3 linked regions of the Homo sapiens genome follow. The protein of the gene in region 3 purifies or fractionates together with the protein of the main gene of each other region. This does not show direct contact. Each region holds a gene or a part of one and is shown on either strand. Other genes may lie near its edges.

What was found.
Region 1: the proteins of L3HYPDH (region 3) and POLR3C purify together in Homo sapiens (affinity purification with mass spectrometry; 2 studies listed by BioGRID and IntAct, with this or other methods). This does not show direct contact.
Region 2: the proteins of L3HYPDH (region 3) and NKIRAS2 purify together in Homo sapiens (affinity purification with mass spectrometry; 2 studies listed by BioGRID and IntAct, with this or other methods). This does not show direct contact.

The regions. Positions count from the first base shown.
Region 1 is NC_000001.11:145,830,590-145,834,240, forward strand, and holds part of POLR3C (DNA-directed RNA polymerase III subunit RPC3), read left to right. Parts: intron 1-2,670; coding exon 2,671-2,775; intron 2,776-2,884; exon of another isoform or gene 2,885-2,900; coding exon 2,901-2,993; intron 2,994-3,651. UniProt on the Homo sapiens protein: DNA-dependent RNA polymerase catalyzes the transcription of DNA into RNA using the four ribonucleoside triphosphates as substrates.
Region 2 is NC_000017.11:42,018,564-42,022,314, forward strand, and holds the start of NKIRAS2 (NF-kappa-B inhibitor-interacting Ras-like protein 2), read left to right. Parts: upstream 1-1,526; 5' UTR 1,527-1,641; exon of another isoform or gene 1,642-1,706; intron 1,707-2,981; exon of another isoform or gene 2,982-3,000; 5' UTR 3,001-3,014; coding exon 3,015-3,108; intron 3,109-3,751. UniProt on the Homo sapiens protein: Atypical Ras-like protein that acts as a potent regulator of NF-kappa-B activity by preventing the degradation of NF-kappa-B inhibitor beta (NFKBIB) by most signals, explaining why NFKBIB is more resistant to degradation.
Region 3 is NC_000014.9:59,477,841-59,481,491, reverse strand, and holds part of L3HYPDH (trans-3-hydroxy-L-proline dehydratase), read left to right. Parts: intron 1-2,140; coding exon 2,141-2,310; intron 2,311-3,651. UniProt on the Homo sapiens protein: Catalyzes the dehydration of trans-3-hydroxy-L-proline to Delta(1)-pyrroline-2-carboxylate (Pyr2C). May be required to degrade trans-3-hydroxy-L-proline from the diet and originating from the degradation of proteins such as collagen-IV that contain it.

The sequences.
Region 1 (3,651 bases), on a different chromosome or scaffold from region 3:
AGAGTTCGAGATGAGCCTGGTCAACATGGTGAAACCCCGTCTCTACTAAAAATACAAAAATTAACCGGCCATGGTGGTAGGTGCCTGTAATTACAGCTACTTGGGAGGCTGCGGCAGGATAATGGCCTGAACCTGGGAGGCAGGGGTTGCAGTGAGCTGAGATCACGCCACTGCACTCCATCCTTGGTGACAGAGCAAGACTCCATCTCAAAAAAAAAAAAGAAATTGGGTTGTCTAGGCACAGTGGCTCGTGCCTGTAATCCCAGCATTTTGGGAGGCTGACGTAGAAGAATCACTTGAGCCCAGGAGTTTGAGACCAGCCTGGACAACATAGTGAGACCCCATCTGTACCAAAAAAAAAAACACCAGACCTGGTGGCACATGTTTGTAGTCCCAGCTACTCAGGGGCTGAGGTGGGAGGATCACTTGAGCCCAGGAAGTCAAGGCTTCAGTGAGCCATGATGGTGCCACTGCACTACAGCCTGGGCAACAGAGCAAGACCCTGTCTCAAAAAAAAAAAAAAATTGGGTTGGTTATAGTGTAGTTACCTGAAAACTTACAAAACAGAACAGTTTGGGGAACAAATGGAAGTGTCAAATAGGCAGCTGAGTCTATGCATCTGGAGCATAATAGAGAGTTCCAGGATAGGCCGGGTGCGGTAATGCCTGTAATCCTAGCACTTTGGGAGGCAGAGGCAGGTGGATCACCTGAGGTCAGGAGTTCGAGACCAGCCTGGCCAAGATGGCGAAACCCCGTCTCTACTAAAAATACAAAAATTAGCCATGCATGGTGGCGCAGGCCTGTAATCCCAGCTACTTGGGAAGCTGAGGCAGGAGAATCGCTTGAACCTGGGGGGCAGAGGTTGCAGTGAGCGGAGATTGTGCCACTTCACTCCAGCCTGGGCGAAAGAGCAAAACTCCATCTCAAAAAAAAAAAAAAAAAGAGAGAGTTCTAGGATAGAGTAACAGATTTGGAAATGCATCAATAGTTGAAGCCTGGAGAGCAGATAAAATTACCCAAGTAGAGCATGTAGAGTAAAAAGAAAGGAAAGGTATGGACAGAACCCTGACAAAACACCAGGATTACAGTTGGGATCTGAAAGAGGAATCTGTGGATACTGAGGAAAGGTAGCCAGAAAGGTTCAAAGTAACGCCAAGAAAAAATGGTGTCGGCCAGGCCCAGTGGCTCACACTTGTAATCCTAACACTTTGGAAGGCCAAGGCGGGCAGATCGCTTGAGCCTAGGAATTTGAGACCATCCTGAGCAACATGGTGAGACCGTCTCTACAGAAAAATACAAAAATTACCCAAGCGTGGTGGCACGCACCTGTGGTCCCAGCTGCTTGGGAGGCTGAGATGAGAGGATCACCTGAGCCCAGGGAGGTCAAGGCTGCAGTGAGCTACAATCACACCACTGCACTCCAGCCTGGGTGACAAAGACCCTGTCTTTAAAAGGAAAAAAAAAATGGTGTCATAAAACCAAGGAGCCACATAAAGTTTTAAGAAGGAAAAAATGTCCAACCATGTCATATGCTTCCAAAAGGTTAAATAAGATCAGAAGTGGAAATTATTATTTGAACTTAACAACATAGAATCCTTAAGGACAGTTGTGGAATTTCACTGGAATGCGAGTGACAATTGACATTTCAGTACAATAGTGGAAATGGGTTGCGTAAATCTAGGTAGAGATACAACTGAGATGGCCAACTGTTTGAGAAGCTTGGCTGTGACACTAAGGAAAAGAAGAGAAGGCATAGGGTTGAAAGAGAATTCTAGAGTAGAAAGAGACTTGGACAGGGTAAAGGCTGATAAGAAGGCGGTAGAGAAGGAAAGCCTGAAGATGTTAGAGGACAGGGTAAAATAGAGCTGGATCCCCAAGAATGAATGAGAGAGTAAGATTTGGAATACCAATATGGGCATTAACCTTAGGTAAAAGGAGCATTTTTCAGCTGTGATAAAAGTGAGTGAAAATATGAATCAAGAACAAAAAAGAAATGTGGTGAGGATGTGCACAGAGCTGAGTGAGTTCTGGCCTAGTGTCTTCTATTTTCTCTGTGAAATGAGAGGCAAAGTCATCTGCCGAGAGTGAGAAGGAAGAAGGGTCAAGTTGGAGACTTGAAAGTAATGGAGAAGAGTTAAAATAGAGAGAGAAAGGCCGGATGTGGTGGCTCACACCTATAATCCCAGCACTTGGAGTCCGAGGCAGGCAGATCACCTGAGGTCAGGAGTTCGAGACCAGCCTGGCCAACATTGTAAAACCCCAACTCTACTAAAAATACAAAAATTAGCCTAGCGCAGTGGTGGTTGCCTGTAATCCCAACTACTCAGTAGGCTGAGACAGGAGAATCACTTGAACCCGAGAGGCAGAGGTTGCAGTGAGCCGAGATCATGCCACTGCACTCCAGCCTGGGTGACGAGCAAAACTCCGTCTCAGAAAAAAATTAAAATAAATGTTAAATAATAAAATAGGGAGAGAAAGATTGGAGATGAGCTTAGAAAACCTGTTTGAAGTCGGAATTTGTCTAGACACCAGTCTACATGACTGAATGATTTTTTTCCAACCAATGTAATTGTTACTGTGTAGGAAAAGAAATGGTGAACCATTAAATCCAAGCTCCTCACCAGAAAACTTTACACTATAGCTAAATGTTTCTCTAAATCTTTTCCTCAGCCCATTCCAGATGATGGGATTTATTGGCAGGCCAACCTTGACAGATTCCACCAACACTTCCGTGACCAAGCCATTGTGAGCGCAGTTGCTAACAGGATGGACCAGGTAATACCTAAGTGGGTCTGTCATTGGTCATCAGGGACATTTACTTATTTGTCAGATATGGCCATTGGCACATAGAGCCAGGGGCAGCACTGTGATTTCTGAATTCTAGTTTACTTTTCAAACAGACAAGCAGCGAGATTGTGCGAACCATGCTCCGAATGAGTGAGATTACCACTTCCTCTAGTGCTCCCTTCACCCAGCCATTGTCTTCCAATGAGGTGAGTTTCATGTTCTTGCACTAACTTTCTGACAGATTCTTGGGTGTTATCAACGTTTATTATACACAGATCCTGAGTTTGGGTTGAGGTCTGAGCCTTGAAAGAGAAGGGCATTTGATGTGGAGCAGGGATTATCTTCAAGTGATGAGCACTGAAATGTTTGGTCTCTTAGGATCCAGCTTTTAAAAATCTACACTATTCACTTAGTCAAAGTATCTATTCGTCAAGTACAGCCTATTCCTAATTATTTTAAGAATCCACAATTTGGACTCTGAGAGCCTTGGCATTCAGGACATTATTTGACCCCCTGTACTTAAAATATCGATATTTAATATATCCAATATGTGTTATTTATATTACTTTCATAGTAATACAGTCATGCATCACTTAACAGCAGGGATACATTCTGAGAAATGTGTCGTTAGGTGATTTCATCATTGTGTGAACATCATAGGGTGTACTTAACACAAACCTAGATGGTGTAGCCCTACAGCACACCTAGACTGAACGGGATAGCCTATGGCTTCTAGGCTGTAAACCTGTACAGCATGTTACTGTACTGAATACTGTAGGCAGTTGTAACGCAGTAGCATCTGTGTATCTAAACATCTAATCACAGAAAAGGTACAGTAAAAATATGGTATGAAAAATTAAAAAC
Region 2 (3,751 bases), on a different chromosome or scaffold from region 3:
GGGGTCATTCGTTGAGCCAATCACTCAGCCCTTTCCAAAACGCCTACTCTGTGCTAGGTTGTGAGGGCACAAGACTTACAGACCACCTGCCCTGCCTGCCAGTGGCTCATAGTCCAGTCTAATGCTAGCCAACCTGTCTCACCATCTTCCCACTTTATGTTCTATCTAAGGCAACTCATTTATTCCCACAGCTTTACTTCCATCTGTTGATGACTCTCAACTTTTCATATCTCCAACCTAGACCTTTCTTCAGCTTCCACAGCTGTATATCCAACTATCTACTGGATATCTCTTGTATGTTTCACAAATCCCCAAGGCTTACCATATTTAAATTTAACTTTTTCATTGTCTACCCACACCTCAACAACAGAAAAAACAAATGTTGGATGTAATTATTATCTTTCCTAAATTCCGTATCTTGTTAAATGGATTAAACCATTCTCACTCTTGGCTTCCAATTTGTTGCCAAGTTTTGTTGATTCTCCTACCAAATATTTCCCAAATCTATCTCCACCTTTCCATCCCGATTCAGGCGCTCATCATTTTTTAAAATCTTGGAATAGGCTGGGTGTGGTGGCATGCATCTGTAGTCCCAGCTATTTGGGAGGCTGAGGCAGGAGGATCACTTGAGCCCAGGAGTTAGAGGCTGCAGTGAGCTATGATCACACCAATGTACTCCAGCATGGAGAAAAGAGCAAGACCCTGTCTCAAAAACGGCAACAACAACAACAACAAAACAACAGAAAAAAAAACTTGGAATACATCAATAGTCTCCTAATCGGTCTCTAATTTCATCTCTGTTCAGTCTTCCCTCTTCTGCCAGAGTGACCTTCCTCAGGGACTGATCATGTCTCTTCATTGGCAATGGCTTTCCATTGCCGTCAATTTGATCTCTTTGGCCTACCACACAAAGCCTTTGATTATCTGTTTCTTTTTTTAAATAATTTAATTTGAGTACCAATATTTAGGTCCTTTCTACCACCAATATTGAACCCAAGTTCTCATAGTTTCAGAAAATGCCATGACTTGTAGCCGTTTCCTCCACCCTAGAACACCCTTTCCCCCAGGCCCTTCAGTGTCTGCTGACTCAACGTTAAATGCCCTTTTGCTGTGCTCCACAGCACCTCAGTAGTTGTTAGACATCTAGCTTCTCTAGACCGTGAGTTCTGATGGGCAGCCACCATGTCTAACTCGTCCACTTTCTCTCAGTATATGGCCCTGCACCAGGCACAGACAGATGATGCTCAGAAAACATTTGACGAATAAATGATTGAGTAAACGAAGAGTTACTGTACTCTGATCGCCTTTACAGAGAGAACATCTGGGCCTCAGAGACACCAGAACACCCAGCGGCCCGCGTCCAGGGAGTCTAGAACCTTGGGCTCCCGCGCACACCCAGGCCAGGTCCTGGCCGTCATTCTCCCGCCGGCCTCTGGGGGAGCTGCGCGGTCCGCGCTCTCTCTCCGCTGCCGGAATTCGTCTTGCCTGACGGAAGCTGGGGAGCGGGCAGGCGGCGGGGGCGGGGCCTGGAGGAGCCTACACCGACTCTGGAGGAAGACTGGAGCCTTTGCGGCGGCGCTGCCCCTCCCCTGGTCCCCGCGAGCTCGGAGGGCCCGGCTGGTGCTGCGGGGGCCCCGGGAGGTACGGACCTGGGAGGCGAGGCTCGTCCGGCGCTAGGATCGGCCTCCGCCTCCGGGCCGCTTTAGGTGGCTGGTCTCTGCCTCTCATTCCCTCTGGGGGCTCCCCCGTGAGAAAATCTGTGGCGGAGGCACCTCTGGCCCACTCTTATGGTGTCCTTTATTGTGGGGCTCGCTATATGGAGAGGGGGTCTGTGTCAGGAGCTTCCCCTGGAGAGGTTTCTGTTAGGGACCGTCTTTGGGAGTGATCTATCTCTGCTCTCTGGGGGGGATCTTTGTCTGGAGCTTTTGGGGGGCTTGTGTTTGGAAGTTTGCCTTCGGGGAGATATCTGTCTGGGACCTCTTAGGGTTTCTGTATCTGAGCTTTCTCTTTTGTGTCTGTCAGTCCAAGGGCAGCAAAAAGTATGTCCTTTCTGAAGCCTTTTTTTCCGTAGGTTTCTTCATTCTTTTCTCTCTTGTCTTATGTTCATTTTAGCCATAGACTTGACTGGAGTTTAGAGGGAATTGATTGTTGTCCAGATGAGTCGTACAGGAAAGCAGATTGTCTTTTTTTGAGACGGAGTCTTGCTCTGCCGCCCAGGCTGGAGTGCAGTGGCATATTCTTGGCTCACTGCAATCTCCGCCTCCTGGATTCAAGCGATTCTCCTGCCTCAGCCTCTCAAGTAGCTGGGATTACAGGCACCCGCCACCACGCCTGACTAATTTTTTGTATGTTTAGTAGAGATGAGGTTTCACTATGTTGGCCAGTCTGGTCTCGAACTCCTGACTTTGTGATCTGCCCACCTCGGCCTCCCGAAGTGCTGAGATTACAGGCGTGAGCCACCGTGCCCTGCCCCAGATTATCCTTTTTATTTGCTCAGTCCCCCCAGGGAGCAGATGGCTTCAGACAGCCACACAAAACACTGTTCCTGCTTAATTCTCCATGGGGTCATGGTTAAAGAGAGGAAGCTGGGCTGAGCTCCCTTTACTAATTGGTCCTCTACATCTTGCGCACAGAAGGGAACCTGGCCCAGTGGCCAGTGACTCTCCTCTCCCTTTATGGCAGCATTTCCAAGCACCTGCCCTGTGACAGATACTGGCTAGGTACTGGGGATAACAAAGACGAATAAAATAACAGCTTACCATCCAGTAGTAGACATGGAGACATCCGTTTCCTCTGACTAGCATTGGGATGGTGCTGAAACCCTGGAACTATACATTCAGTTTAGAACTATACATTCAGTTTAGAACTCTCAGTTATGGACGTTCTGCCTTCTGTTTTTTTGGTTTTTGTTTTTGTCCACCAGAAAACATCTGCTAGTAACTGCCTTCTGTGTTGATGCTTTCTTTCCTCACCTTACCCAGCGTGCTTCTGTTCTTCAAGGTTGAAAACTAAGCATGGGGAAGAGCTGCAAGGTGGTCGTGTGTGGCCAGGCGTCTGTGGGCAAAACTTCAATCCTGGAGCAGCTTCTGTATGGGAACCATGTAGTGGGTGAGTGTTGTTGGAGGGGGAGGAACAGTGGAAGAAGTTGAAAAATAAGGAATAGGACTTGATCACAACACACACAGGCTAAAAGCTGCTCCTGGTGGTTTTCCCCCCTGGAAGAATAAAACTTACATTGTAACAGATCAACTCTACAACACTGAACAAATACGGAGGGAGAAAGCCCTATGTCCAAGATAGGAAAGAGAAGCTGTCATGTCACACTTGTGCTTAGCATGGAATTAGCATAAAATTAATGTCCATTGGCCGGGTGCGGTGGATCACGCCTGTAATCCGAGCACTTTGGGAGGCTGAGGCGGGTGGATCACCTCAGGTCGGGAGTTCGAGACCAGCCTAACGAACTTGGAGAAACCCTGTCTCTACTAAAAATACAAAATTAGCCGGGTGTGGTGGCACATGCCTGTAATCCCAGCTATTCGGGAGGCCGAGGCAGGAGAATCGCTTGAACTCGGGAGGTGGAGGTTGCGGTGAGCCGAGATTGCGCCATTGCACTCCAGCCTGGGCAACGAGAGCAAAACTCCGTCTCAAAAAAAGAAAGAAATTAATGTTCGTTCCCCTAAACCCAAATCATTTCAGTCCTGCCAGGCTGTCAATTCTCTGGCCTCCTCAGCCCCCTACATTCCTTTCTCCC
Region 3 (3,651 bases):
TTTTAGTAGAAAGGGTTTGGGCTTTGGAGTCACCTGGTCCTGGGTTTGACCCCAAGCTCTGCCACTTATTTAGTGGGTAAACCAGGGAATAATGTAAAGATAGTAAGTAAAACAGTACCTACCTCTCAGGGCTGTAGTAATTAAGGCACTAATGTAATGAATTAAGGGGCTAGTGTATGTAAAGACCTGCCACATAGGAAGTACTCATGGGTGAAATAAATATCTTAATTTTTAATGTTAGTAATTTAGTGATTAAAAAATGAAATAGTCACAGATAATTGGTGGACAAGAGTAACTTTAAAGGAAATTTGGTCCATTTTAAAGAAAAGGAAACTGAAACTCAGTGAGGTGTAGCACCCTACCCAACTGCCCACCCTAAGAAAACCAGACCCAAGATTCTAGAAAGGTTGGGCCAGGGAAATGATTGTAGGCTCAGGGATGACTTCTCCTGAACCAGCTTCCCAATTTCATCCTGGTCCCGGGATTGGTGGCCAATGCCCCATTTAGTTGTTACAATCAAGGGAAGAGGGCAGGCCGACTGAACCCTGGGACCGTCACCTGTGTCTCCTGGTAAGTGCTGATCTTCACCCTCACTTTAGCTTTCCACCTTCCAGCAGTCCCTCATTTCTATCAACTTGCCCATTCTCTTTTCATTAAACTTGCTTTTCATGTTGCGCCAGCATCAAGATAAAGACATTTTTTATTCAGTTTTGTTGTTACAATCCACAGCATGTTTTACTCTTTTGATTATAAACTTGCTCTGTTTTAACACATCATGGGTTAAAAGGGCTTCTGTGGACTAGTGTGGACTAATAGCATACTGATAGCCTTCTGTGGACTGATAGCATACTGATATCTTTGTATGACCTTGTATGAAAACTCAGGAACACAAGATATATTTTCTTTCCCAAAACTTAATTTCTGAAGCTGAAACTCTACTCTGTCCTTTTGGTTCACTTAGCCTCATCACTCCATGTGTTGTCCCCTTTCCTGATATGTGTGAGCAAAGGTTTCTTAAAAGTGCTGTGGCCTTGGAGAGGATGGCACTTCAGTCCTCAGCTTACACAGTTAACCAGCAAAGTGGAGCAGGAGCATTGGCTGCCCCACCCTACCTGGTCCTTGCCCTCTGCACTGCCTCCCCATCCTCTGTTTCTTCACTCCTGCTCCTGTGGTGCCCTGGGGGAAGTTAACACACGTCCTCTCTGCACTAAGGACCTTCAGCCTCCACTCTTCTCAAGGGAGAAAAAATTTATCTCTAGGAGAAATATTTCTCCCTTCAGGACACTCCTTTGCCAACAGATGTCTTTCCCCTGAGAGCTTAGGCTTCCCTAAAATAAAAACATGAAAGACAAGCTTTCTCCCCTGCCATAGGCTTCCCTAAAAGGCAGTGATCACCAAGCTAGCTTAAATTAGGGAAGAGGAAAATTTGAGAAGGGGCGAAATAAACATCACCCAGCCCCCTTTCTTTGGAAATACAGATTCAAGATTTCAAACTACTGACCTTCAGGTGAAACTTTGGGGATGTTGAGACTTAAAATGCTCAAATAAAAACCCTGGTGCAAAATGATGCTGTAGCAGTCAATGATTCTACAATGGCATTTTTCTGTGTTTGCCTGCAGGATACCTTAAGGAGATGAAAACATGTAGATAAGTGTATATAATTTATATAGAAAAATCTTTTATTAAAATTTATGTTTTGACATTACGGCTGAAGAAAATTGATTTGTAAATAGGATCCAAGACCCTCACTATTTTAAACCATCTCTCATAGTACAAGTGGGGAATAGACATTTTCCTTCTTAGTGTTCACAGGGATGCCCTTGGGTTTCCCTCTCTCGGCCTCAGGGGTGTTTCCTAGAAAAGATCCTCAGGGAAGTTAATGAATATGTCTGTATGAGTTAGGGAAAGCATGGCTTTAGTTTATAACTTCTGCAATCATCAAGTTAAAAATAGAATGATGCATCTAGCTATTATTCACTCGATGCTTATTCATTTAAAAAACGGATTTTTACTTCATTATTTTTATGATAGGAAAAGAACATCCCTCTTGAAAAATAAACATATTAAAAATCCTTTGAATTTTATTGCTAAAATACTTATTAACAAACACATCTTCTTTCCAAACACATCTTTTTTTTAGATCTCATGGTGGATGTTCCTGGACATGGAAAGGTGATGGTGGACATTGCATATGGCGGTGCATTTTATGCATTTGTTACTGCTGAAAAGTTAGGACTAGACATTTGTTCTGCAAAGACCAGGGACCTTGTGGATGCAGCGAGTGCAGTGACAGAGGCAGTGAAAGCTCAGGTCAGTAATACTCTGCCTTCATAACCAATTCCCTTCTCTGTGGCATGGAGGAAATATACATTATTATGTCTATAAAGAAAATTAAATGATGTTTAAATTATTAATAGTACTAAGAATAGGGTACTTATTAAAATCTTAGGCTCTAGAGCAAGCTTGTCCCACCCGTGGCCTGTGAGCCACATGCAGCCCAGGATGGCTTTGAATGTGGCCCAACACAAATTTTGTAAACTTTCTTAAAACATTATGAGTTTTTTTGCAATTTTTTTTTAGCTCATCAGCTCTCGTTAGTGTTAGTGTATCTTATGTGTGGCCCAAGACAATTCTTCTCCCAGTGTGGCCCAGAGAAGCCAAAAGATTGGACATTCCTGCTCTAGAGCAAAACTATCTATGAGTTCTAGCTTTACCACTGGTAACGTATATAACCTTGGGCAAGTTACGTAACCTCCATATGCCTCAGTTTTCCTGTCTGCAAAATGGAAATTAAAAAATACCTGCTTTGTAGGGTTGTGAGAATGAAATAAGTCAATACATGTAAAGGACTTAGAGTAGTGTCTGGCCAATAGTAAATGTTCAGTAAATGATAATATTATTTTTTTTGAGACAGGGTCTTGCTCTGTCACCCAGGCTGTAGTGCAGTGGTGTGATCATAGCTTACTGTAACTTCAAATTCCCAGGCTCAAAATGATGCTTCTGCCTCAGCCTCCAGAGTAACTGGGACCACAGGCATGCCCCATCACACCCAGCTAAATCTGTGTTTGTGTGAGTGTGTGTGTGTGTTTATATAGAGACAGGATGTCACTATGTTGCCCAGGATGGCCTCAAACTCCTGGCCTCAAGTGATTCTCCCAGCTCGGCCTCCCAAAGTGTTGGGATTACAGGTGTGAGCCACCACACCTAGCAGTTACTAAATTTAATAATACATACATACTAATATAGTTTATAGTTCCTTAAATGTGTAGAAATATATTTATAGAATTCTGCAAATTTTAAATGCATGTGTGTGGTCATTCTGTTAAACTTGAAAATAATAAATGTAAAATATAGTGTACAGAATAGATTTAAGCCTTTTTCTTATTTCATAGAGAACATTAATTCCTATTATTTTTTTCCTACATTGCTAAGAAGTTACTCAAATAACTACTTAAATAACTCTAGTTTTTACTTGGGAAAGCTAATTTGATAAAATCAGTTTAGATAATAATTCTAGGATATTCTTTCACTTCTAGCACGAGTGAAGCACATTTTACCTTGAAATTGGGACCTATAAATAAAACACATGTACAGTATTTGAATGTTTAGTACGTGAGAATTTAGTATGTGAGAATTTATTAGTAGTAAAAA